3 linked regions of the Homo sapiens genome follow. The protein of the gene in region 2 purifies or fractionates together with the protein of the main gene of each other region. This does not show direct contact. Each region holds a gene or a part of one and is shown on either strand. Other genes may lie near its edges. The genes, in order: NSMCE4A, SLF2 and NSMCE2.

Region 1 (3,653 bases), about 21 Mb from region 2:
CCTGAGGGTTTTGTGATTATTGTTTATATATGATATTGCCATCGTAATTGGATAACTTCTAGGCATTTTACAGTATAATGTAATAAAAATGTACTTTCATAAAAGTAAATTCAATATAACACATTTTCTGTAAGACAGTTTGAGATGAGAGAATTATTTGACTTCCGCCAACTCTTCCCAGGAAGGCAATTTTAAGATGAGCCATTCTCTCAGTGATGCCGGGCCACTGCTCTCTGGATATACTGAGATACAAGCTGAATAGAGATTTGTAGGAGGTTGGCAAAAAATTAAAATCTGAAAACCAGCTGAACTTCCTTGTGCTGTCTTGAAGCTTTTGATTTGGGATTTAATTTTATATTTATATGTTAGTGCAGCTTTACTAATACACGAACTATTGGTGATACAAAAAATCCCAGGGGGCTGAGTTCTGGCATACCTAAATACTTCTGGCTGCCAGTGGGCTACAGCAGGGTTTCTCAGCACTGGCACTATGGATTGGCATTTTGAGCTGGGCATGTCTTTGTTTTGGGGGCTGTTACTGTGCATTATATGATATTCAACAGCCTCCATGGCCTCTACCCAGTATATGCCAGCAGCATATCAGTTGTGACACCCACAAATGTCTCCAGGTATTGCCAGAAGACCCCTGTGGGCACGTATACCCAGGTTGAGAACCACTGGTCTAAATCATTTCACTTTCTCACCCAAAGGTTTTAAGTACATTGAGGAATGTTTTCTGCCAAAAAGAAGGTAGCTTTGGAAGCAGGACTTTAACTGTAAAGTTATCTTCACAGTAAGAAATTTAGCCAGCATGTTAAGACACTGAAAGCTGGCTTTGCGTCTGGCCTCTTAAAGGTTGAGTGATGCGGATTATTGGATGTGGAAAATGATTGCATGTGGCTTAACTGGGTTTTTTGTTTTCCTTCATTTTTGTAGCTCACACATATGGGTGTAAATCCGCTAGAAGCTGAAGAACTCATCCGTGATGAAGATAGTCCTGATTTTGAATTCATAGTCTATGACTCCTGGAAGATAACAGGCAGAACAGCAGAAAACACCTTTAATAAAACCCATACATTCCACTTTCTGTAAGATTATTTTAAAAATCCAACAGACCAGTTATTTGTGAACCTTAAATTGCTTTTTCTTGTAGGGACAAAGATTATTTGGTATTGTAGAGGTGACAGTCATGATGCCGTTGTTTGGAGACTTTTGAAACTTTGATATGAAAGTTCATAAACACTAGGCCGGGTGTGGTGGCTCATGCCTGTAATCCCGGCACTTTGGCAGGTGGATGCAGGTAGATCATCTGAGCTCAGGAATTCAAGATCAGCCTGGGCAACATGGCGAGAACCCATCTCTACCAAAAATACAAAAAATTAGCCCGCTGTAGTGGCCCATGCCTGTGGTCCTGGCTACTTGGGAGGCTGAGGTGGGAGGATCACTTGAGCCTGGGAGGCAGAGATTGCAGTGAGCTGAGATTGCGCCATTGCACTCCGGCCTGGCTGACAGTGAGACCCTGTCTCAAAAAAGAAAAAAAAGTCCATAAACTCTAGATGTGGATGGAACCTTAAAGGATCTCTCATTCTGCTTTAGCAGAAAAGGCCAGAACCTCTTTACCAGTGCTCTCCTGGCTCCTTTGCTTCTAGCTCATGAGACTCTGGGTTTATCATCTTTAAAATCCTTATCATATAGGAGGATGATACCTCCTACTGAGGGTATCTTATGAGTCTCCCAACGTCTAAAGTGACATTTATTATAATACCCTGTTAGATGACCACTGACTTGTATTTGAAGATTACTTGTCACTGCCACATAAACTGTCCAGTTCATTTTTTAGATAGAACTCTGATTTAAAAAAAAGATTTCTTTATATTTGAATGAAGTTGGCTTCTGTCTTAACTTCCTGGCATGGTCCTATGGAGAAATTAAGAACAGCTCTTACTGGCTCTTCTCTAAGAGGACCTTCAAGTATACTGGTTTTGTTGCCCAGTAAATACTTTAGGGTAGCCATCTGAGTTGTTCAGTCCTTCTTTAAGTGGTATAGCTCCTGGGCTTTTGTCTTTTCTAATTTGTCTTTCTAAAAACCATTGAGATTGATAGTAGCTCGGGTAGAAGGCCTTGGAGATGCCAATGTAGTAGTGTGGTGTGGGGTCTGGCATCTATTTTTAATAAGACTTCAGGTAACTCAGGTGCCCAGAGCCATTTGTGTATGTTCTATTTAATAGGATGTAGTCCAAACTTCTTCATCTTAGGATAAAGTCTAAATCTTTGTTTTTTGCTATTGTACTAAACTCATAAATCCTAGGTTATAAAGATAAAGCCTTAAACTTTATCTCATCATCCAGCCCAATTTCCAGCCACAATGAAGTACTTAAAACTCTGTGTCTTTGTACTTGCTGTTCTCTTGGCCTCCAATTCCTTTTCATCTTTTCCATTCGGTAAAGTTTGTTTATCCCACAGGCCCCATCTTGGAAGCCTCCAGCAACTTCTCCAGACAGAGGTGTTAGCAGTGTAGGATCAGATTTCTCAACCACGTCACTCCCATGTCTGGGTAGATATCTCTGCCCAAGTGTTCTCATAGCACTTGAGCAGTACTCTCTAAGCGCCCAGGATCTACCATGTTGCTTTTTTAAAATTTGATTAATTTATTTTTTTATACTGCTCCTTGTGGAGCAGGAGTGTTCCCAGAGTAGCCCACCATGTTATATTGAAATGGATCTGTGTGCATAATGCAGCTGTCCATCTACATCGTATATTTTTGTCTCCTCAAGGGTAGGGACCACATGAGCCTTATTCTTGGGGCTTTGATCTCTACATGATGCAGACTTACATCTATTACTGTAACCCAAGTCTGCATGAGGGCAGAATCCAGAAGGAAAAGGAATCCCATGGCTGTGACTTGCCCTGTTATCCTAAGACAGATGTGTTCTGTAGTCCTGGGCTGGGAGCCTCTGCCTTGGCCTCCCCAGATCAAAGTCTTCTGACCCCACTGGAGCTTCCCCACATACATGTTCATCCTTCCCCTGCTCTTAGAAGTTGGCTTTGCAAAACAATAGGTTGGGTGGTGGGAAGATGTCACAGGCATATTCACTGGCCTACTTTACAGGGCAGTATGTAGGTGTCTGAGGAGGTATCTGTGGTTGAGTAAAGCTCCTAGGAGTTCTTTTAGAAATACAAAGAAGGCAGAAAGGCTGTCACAAACCTTATCAAGAGTCTTACTCTGATGTCAGCTTGTATATCACTGATGTCTGGTCTGAATTTGACTATACCATGCAAACTACTTTTAGTTAGTAAAGTTAGTTTGTTTAACAAACAACAGGCAAAAAAAATAAATGAAAGCATACTTTTCATTAGGTTGGGTTCAATATACGGAGAGTGCCCTGTGCCAAAGCCACGAGTTGATCGTCCAAGAAAAGTTCCTGTGATACAAGAGGAGAGGGCAATGCCTGCCCAGGTTTGTTTTAAAATGTTGCTTTTAAAAAAACACATTAAAGTTAAAATAGCTGTTAAAATAATGTGCATGCAATTTGGCCATTTTTTCTAAGTGTGCGGGTCTGGAGCCAGGTTTTGTCACTTAAATAATCATTTTATTTAAGCCTTTAAGCATTTTATTGGATTGGCTGCTTGTCTTTGTTTTAACTCATTTCTCT
Region 2 (3,653 bases):
ACTCAGGTCATTATGTAATTTTTTTTTTTTTGAGACAAGAGTCTCACTCTGTCACCCAAGCTGAATATTTTTTTATTTTTAATTTTAGTTTATCTGTTACCTTAATACAGATGACATATTCCACAAAAATAAATGAATTAGCTTTTTTTTGCTTTAGTAAAAATAAATTTCATCAGTAAAAAAATAGGTTTTCTGTCAGTAAATCATCAGGGTCAAAGATAAGGCCGTTAAATGATTTATTGAGCTTCAGATAACTCAAGTTTTATGTACAGATATTTTACATGAAAATTTTACTGTTCTATAACAGCTTATATGTTCCTGTACAGACTTCTCTTGAAACATTGCCTATATTTCCAATTAGAACTAGAGCTCCTCTTGGCTCATTCATTTGCTTTTCAAGCAGTATTAATTAAAATACATTCTAAATACTTTTAACTTCTAATTCTAGGCAACTGAGACAGTGCCTCAGTCTAGTGATTATTTCAAAGCTTTTGGATGAGAAACACGAAGATGTTCCTAATGCCAGTAATCTGCAGGTATAAATAAATACATTTTTATTTTTAATAAATGGGAGAGGTAATGAGAGGTGTAAGGAAAATTGATGAACCCTAAGTCAAAGGTCCTGGGGTCAGAGCTCAGCTCTTAAGCTTGATACTGTTCATGTAATCTCTAGCACACTTAACTAACAAGATCCAATTTTTTCATCTGTGAAATGGAGATAATATTGCACCCTCCACCACTTAGGGTGGTTGTGGACAATCAGATGTGAATTAATGTATAAAGAAACTACTGGGAAAATCATAATGTGCAATTATATGAATATGATTTCATTTATTGAATTAGTTCAGCTTTTCCAAGTTAGCAATTTTATCACAAGATTAGAAATTGCAAAACCCTTGTACATTGATTGCATCTTTAACCTGTTTTAAAATGAGTCTTTTTAGATCATAGAGCTTAAATGTAGTTGCCCTCTAGTACTTGTTCAGTAAGAATATATCATGTATATATGAGAGTGTGGATAAACATGTCCAGCTGTTGCTGGGTACTGGTGGCACACACCTATCGTCCCAGCTACTTGGGAGGCTGAGGCCAGAGGATCCTTTGAATCCAGGAGTTCAAGTCCAACCTAAGCAACATAGGGAGACCTTGTCTTTAATATATATATGAATGTTTTTAATTAAAAAAAATGTCCAATGGAAGTCCCACTCTGAGTAAAATTCTGAAGGCTTTTTATAAACATTGATAGCACTAATGGGGCTGCCCTTGCTTGGATTTGAAAACTCACCATAGGATGGGCACAGTGGCTCACGCCTGTAATCCCAGCACTTTAGGAGGCCGGGGCAGGTGGATCACGAAGTCAGGAGATCAAGACCATCCTAGCCAACACGGTGAAACCCCGTCTCTACTAAAAAAAATACAAAAAAATTACCCGGGCATGGTGGCGGACACGTGTAGTCCCAGCTACTCGGGAGGCTGAGGCAGGAGAATGACATGAACCCAGGAGGTGGAGCTTGCAGTGAGCCGAGATCACGCCACCGCACTCCAGCCTGGGCAACAGAGCGAGACTCTGTCTCAAAAAAAAGCCCCATAGAACCTGATCTGGATGTCCCTTTGTTCTTGTTTGAATTGCAATTTGGTACAAGGTATGCCACCAGATCCTAGGAATTAAAACAAACAAAGATTTAGATTAGAGACTCTGCCCTTGAAAACATAATCTAATGGTTGAAACAAAATTAACCAACTCTTATGGGTTAGTGTGGTAAGAACAGTAATCGAAGCATGCACGAGATGCTGTGGGATGGAGAGACTGATGGGCACAGCTGGTTTCTGCTTTAGTAGAATTGAGGTAGATTTGATTCCAGATATATGGGGATCATGCTGGAGCTACCAGGATAATTAGCAGATAGTTCTCATTCCTTTCATTGATATTTACTGCCTTCAAAAGAGATCCGGGGATAGGATTTCTACCATTTCTCCTAACTTTTGTTGTTCTGTTACTTTTTCCTTTTTTGCCCATGTAAAATAGAATAATTAGCTGAATAATTACATGAATAATTAACCCTCAAACTCACTAACTGATATTCAAGTAACAATCTAGTTGTGATTTTTACCACAACTTCTTGTAGTTCTTCTCAGAATTCAATGACTTCTAACCACAGAGTCAACTTTGTTGACTTTCAAATAATTTAACAGAGAAAGCATTCCCTGTGGCCTCTATGATAATATCGTTTGGTCTCCTAAGCATTTATCCTAAGTTACAAGTACTAAATCTTTAACTTAAAATCCCTTTTTTTTTTTTTGAGAGATGTAGTATTGCTCTGTCACCCAGGCTGGAATGCAGTGGCACAATCTCGGCTCACTGCAACCTCCACCCCGCATATTCAAGTGATTCTCGTGCCTCAGCCTCCCGAGTAGCTAGGACTACAGGCATGTGCCACCATGCCCAGCTAATTTTTGTATTTTTAGTAGAGGCGGGGTTTCTCCACGTTGGCCAGGCTGGTCTTGAACCTCTAACCTCAGGTGATTCACCTCCCTTGGCCTCTGAAAGTGTTGGGATTACAGGTGTGAGCCACCGTGCCCGACCACTTAAAATCCCTTTTTAAGCAATTCAGGGTTTTACATAAAGGGAAAATGGATATTGTTAAGTGTAAAGAAAGCTATAATAAAAGGACAAAATGAAAGAGTACACACTGGAAAAAAATAGCCTAAGAAAGAACAACTATATTATTTAGCTTTGTTCAATGTCTCCTCTTTCTTTTGATAGGTATCAGTCCTACATCGCTATCTTGTGCAGATGAAGCCTTCTGATTTGTTAAAGAAAATGGTCTTGAAGAAAAAGGCTGAACAACCAGATGGCATTATTGATGACAGTCTTCATTTAGAACTTGAAAAGCAGGTATCCAGTGCTAGAAGGTCTCAAAGAGTACATAGAAGCATAACTGTTATCAGCTTACTAACCATAGACTGATATGTAGGCATTTCTGGATTTGGACACTAGACACATTCTAGCAAACATAATTTTAAAGCGAATAATATTTTTAATTTATCACTGTCATGAAATTCTTCCATAAATTTGAGAGTTGAAAATTTAGGTAAAAGGATGATTGTTGGTAATTTGCTCCCAAGAGTATTTTTTGTAGCCCTTTATTAGGGCAGTCGTGAGGTCATGAATCATGGTAAAAAGAATGCACTTGAGTTAGAAATGAGAAAGCCTAGTTTAGATGCTTCGCTTTTACTTACTGACCAGCTGGGTTAACTTGACCGTATCCTTTATCCTTCCTGGGCAATTTTCCTAATGTGTAAATTGGAATGACATCTATGCTAGCTAATTCATAGGTGTTAATTTTATTCATTTCTCTAACAGGCATATTACCTGACCTACATTCTTCTTCATTTAGTCGGTGAAGTTAGTTGTTCTCATTCTTTTTCTTCTGGACAACGGGTAGGTAGTGTTTAGTGTTGTTGCTGCTGTTTTTAAATAGGTGTTACTGATGATGGAATGAGTGAGCATGCTTTATATAGGAGAAAACTATGTAAACTTTTCTTAATATAAAAGCTAATTGATTTTGCTATAAGAATTCCCATGTATACCAGAAAGAGGGGCATGATAATGGTCTTGTAACTATATCGTATTGAAAAGAATTGTTGGCCAG
Region 3 (3,653 bases), on a different chromosome or scaffold from region 2:
CTGGGATCTCACCAAGTCTATTAATCTGTTAGAAGCCAGAGGAACTGGCAGGAATATAGATTTTCTCTTTTTTTTACAGTTTCCAGAATTCAGTATGCATATATGTTGGATAGTTTAACGATTACAGGTTTTCAAAATAGTTTACTAATAAACTATTTTATTAGTATTTTTTTCTCTTTGGAAAATTGCATCATATGAGTGGTCTACTTTTTCTAACCCATTTATCTTGTAGGCTTTTAAGAACTGTGCTATTGTTGACTTCTTCACAGAATCAAGCACTCTTTTGGAAGAGGGTAATCTCTCTCCAAAAACTGAGGACACTTACCTTCCCCATATATTGAGTCCAGCTGTGTTTGGTGGCCCAGGTGAGTGGCACAGTGATTTGGTGTCTTCTCTATAGGATATACAGAATAGTGTGGCATTTATGAGATATTGGATACATTTGTATGAATGTTTACAGCAGTTTTATTAATATTTTCCTGTGCAGTTATTATTCTGACTTACGAATCTTGTTTCATTGTGTTTGAAAACTTAGGTACTAATTTCAAGATGCCAGGACGTTCCAGTTCAAATTCAGGTTCAACTGGTTTCATCTCCTTCAGTGGTGTAGAGTCTGCTCTCTCCTCCTTGAAAAACTTCCAAGCCTGTATCAACTCTGGTATGGACACAGCTTCTAGTGTTGCTTTGGATCTTGTGGAAAGTCAGAGTAAGTAAAATTAAAACCTCTTTTGTGTCTACTTTGAGGTAACACTGTGTGGTGGTATTTATCTGGGGGTGCCTTTTGAGTATCCTTGGGGGAATGATTTAACCCCTCTAGGCATCTGTTGTCTCATTTTATTCTACACACCGCAGCAGGGTACTGAGGGTGAAATAAGATTGACTCATTCATGTGTGTTCAGACAGTTAAGTTCCATGAGAAACTGCGCTAGAAATGTATGGGCAAAGATTTGAAGATCCTGACCCCAAGGAGCATACAATCTAAAGTATTTGACATTTGTGAACTGTAAGGTATATAAATTTATTATGATATTGTTATTTTTCAGTAGTTTATACTTTGGTCATACTTGATTAACCAGTAGATAGACTAAGCTTATGCTAGGGATACCAGCAAAGGAAGGCCTCAACAAAAATGAGAAAAGTTCAACTTTAATGAATTTTACCTACATTTGTTCAATCAAGAAGATCTAGAAAGATGTGATTTGCAGGCCGGGTGCAGTGGCTCACCCCTGTAATCCTAGCACTTTGGGAGGCCGAGGCCGGCAGATCACGAGGTCAGGAGTTTGAGACCAGCCTGGCCAATATGGTGAAACCCCGTCTCTACTAAAAATACAAAACCAACATGGTGAAACCCCGTCTCTACTAAAAATACAAAAAATTAGCTGGGTGTGGTGGCAGGTGCCTGTAATTCCAGCTACTCGGGAGGCTGAGACAGGAGAATCACTTGAACCCGGGAGGTGGAGGTTGCAGTGAGTCGAGACCGAGCCACTGCACTCCAGTCTGGACAACAGAGCAAGACTCTGTCTCAAAAAAAAAAAGAAAAAAGATGTTATTTGCTTTCTTTGGAGTAGAATCGTTTTTATTTTATTTTACACATGGAGCCAGAGGAGCAGCATGATCCTTTTGTTTTGTTTTTATTGGCATAGGTTTTGAGCAATTTGTGATGTGCCGTGGTGTGATTTTTTTTGTCCTGACTGATATTGTTTGAGATTTATGGATCTGTCAGCTTATAGTTTTTTGAATCAAATTTGGAAAAATTTCTGCTACTATTTCTTCAAATATATTTTTTTAATTCCTCTGCTCTCCTCTCCTTCTGTGTGACTCACATTTCATGTATGTTAGATGGGTTGATATTGTCCCATAAATCAGTGGAACTTGATAGATTTTTTCCAGTCTTTTTACTCTTTAGCTTCAATTTGAATAATTTCTATTGCTAAGTTCATTCATCTTGTCTACTGCAGTGTCTAATCTGATAATTCCATTTAGTGAATTTAAAAATTTCAGTTACTGTATTTTTAATTGTTGAAGACATAACAAAGAATTAAGTAGAATCTTTTTTTTTAGTCTTCCATTTCTTTCTTCATTGTGTCCATATTTTCCTCTACATTCTTGAGTATATGGAGCATGTTTATAATAGCTATTTTAATATCCTTGTATGTTAATTCTGTCATCTCTATGTGTATTATGTTGTTGAGTGTTTGGATTTTGTTGTCTTTTTTTTTTTTTTTTCAGCCGGAATTTTGCTCTTGTTGCCCAGGCTGGAGTGCAATGGTGCGATCTCGGCTCACTGCAACCTCCGCCTCCCGGGTTCAAGCGATTCTCCTGCCTCAGCCTTCGGAGTAGCTGGGGTTACAGGCATGCGCCACCACGCCCAGCTAATTTTGTAATTTTAGTAGAGACGGAGTTTCTTCATGTTGGTCAGGCTGGTCTCAAACTCCCAACCTCAGGTAATCCGCCTGCCTTGGCCTTCCAAAATCTTGGAATTACAGGCATGAGCCTCCATGCCCAGCTTGTTGTCCTCTTTTAAATAGTGTTGGAGTTTGTTTGGTGTGCAGCTAAGTGATTGTGGATTAGGCTGATCCTTTCTAGGCTTATCGTTAAGCTTTGTTAGGTCAAGTCTAATATAGCCTTTATGTTAGGGCTAATTTAGCCTTGTTACAAAGCATGGCCCTTCTGGAGTCTCTCTTGATTGCCCCGAGGGTTCAGTGCGATAGCTCTACTCTGGCTGGATGGAATTTGAGTGTCTCCCGGTCCTAGGTCCTACGTGACTGAACCTGGGAGTTGTTCACTTTATAGCTGTCAGTATTTGTTGCTCAGCATCTTAGGACTCAGCATCAGACTCAAGGGGACCCCAGTGCAGATTCCTAGAGCTCTTTATCTGCATAGCTCCCTCACTCTCTTGCAAACCCTGCTGGCTGCCTCAGCCTCCCTGAACTGAAGTCTCTGTCTCCTCAATCCTTCAAGACTGCTGTGCTAGGCCGAGCATGGTGGCTCCTACCTGTAATCCCAACACTTTGGGAGGCCGAAGCAGGAGGATCTCCTGAGGTCAGGAGTTCCAGGCCAACCTGACGAAACCCTGTCTCTACTAAAAAACAAAAATTAGGCATGGTGGAGGATGCCAGTAGTCCCAGCTACTGGGGAGGCTGAGGCAGGAGAATTGCCTGAACATGGGAGAAGGGGGTTGCAGTGAGCCGAGATTGTGCCACTGTACTCCAGCCTGGGGAAGAGAGTGAGACTCTGTCTCAAAAACTCCCTTGGATTCCTCCTCCCTTGCGCAGGGAGGAGGCCATTGCAAGACTTTTCCCAGTTTTCCCTTATTGCAGTAATTACAGTCCTGTCCCGCCTTTGTCCTACTGTCCCACAGCTATTGTTTCATATATTTTGTTTAGTTTTTCAGTCATTCATGGCAGGTGGACCAGCTCCATACAGTTATTCATTTACGGCTAACAGCAGGTGTCACTCATAATCTTTTTAGTGGGTGGCCTCCAAATGTTTTAACCCTACCCAGTCTGTTTTTGATTATGTTTTTGGTGATCATAATTTAGCTTTGATAGATAGGCCTGGATAAAAGTCATAATAAAATCTTAAACCATAAGAGAGAAGACTGGAACATAACCCCTTGGGAGATTGTATCAGTTTTTTTCAGGATTCTTTTT

The links.
Region 1: the proteins of SLF2 (region 2) and NSMCE4A purify together in Homo sapiens (affinity purification with mass spectrometry; one large-scale study listed by BioGRID and IntAct). This does not show direct contact.
Region 3: the proteins of SLF2 (region 2) and NSMCE2 purify together in Homo sapiens (affinity purification with mass spectrometry; one large-scale study listed by BioGRID and IntAct). This does not show direct contact.

What each region holds. Positions count from the first base shown.
Region 1 is NC_000010.11:121,965,090-121,968,742, reverse strand, and holds part of NSMCE4A (non-structural maintenance of chromosomes element 4 homolog A), read left to right. Parts: intron 1-936; coding exon 937-1,088; intron 1,089-3,357; coding exon 3,358-3,457; intron 3,458-3,653. UniProt on the Homo sapiens protein: Component of the SMC5-SMC6 complex, a complex involved in DNA double-strand breaks by homologous recombination. The complex may promote sister chromatid homologous recombination by recruiting the SMC1-SMC3 cohesin complex to double-strand breaks.
Region 2 is NC_000010.11:100,947,312-100,950,964, forward strand, and holds part of SLF2 (SMC5-SMC6 complex localization factor protein 2), read left to right. Parts: intron 1-448; coding exon 449-536; intron 537-2,764; coding exon 2,765-2,896; intron 2,897-3,364; coding exon 3,365-3,442; intron 3,443-3,653. UniProt on the Homo sapiens protein: Plays a role in the DNA damage response (DDR) pathway by regulating postreplication repair of UV-damaged DNA and genomic stability maintenance.
Region 3 is NC_000008.11:125,101,782-125,105,434, forward strand, and holds part of NSMCE2 (E3 SUMO-protein ligase NSE2), read left to right. Parts: intron 1-232; exon of another isoform or gene 233-269; 5' UTR 270-365; intron 366-535; 5' UTR 536-549; coding exon 550-706; intron 707-3,653. UniProt on the Homo sapiens protein: E3 SUMO-protein ligase component of the SMC5-SMC6 complex, a complex involved in DNA double-strand break repair by homologous recombination. Is not be required for the stability of the complex.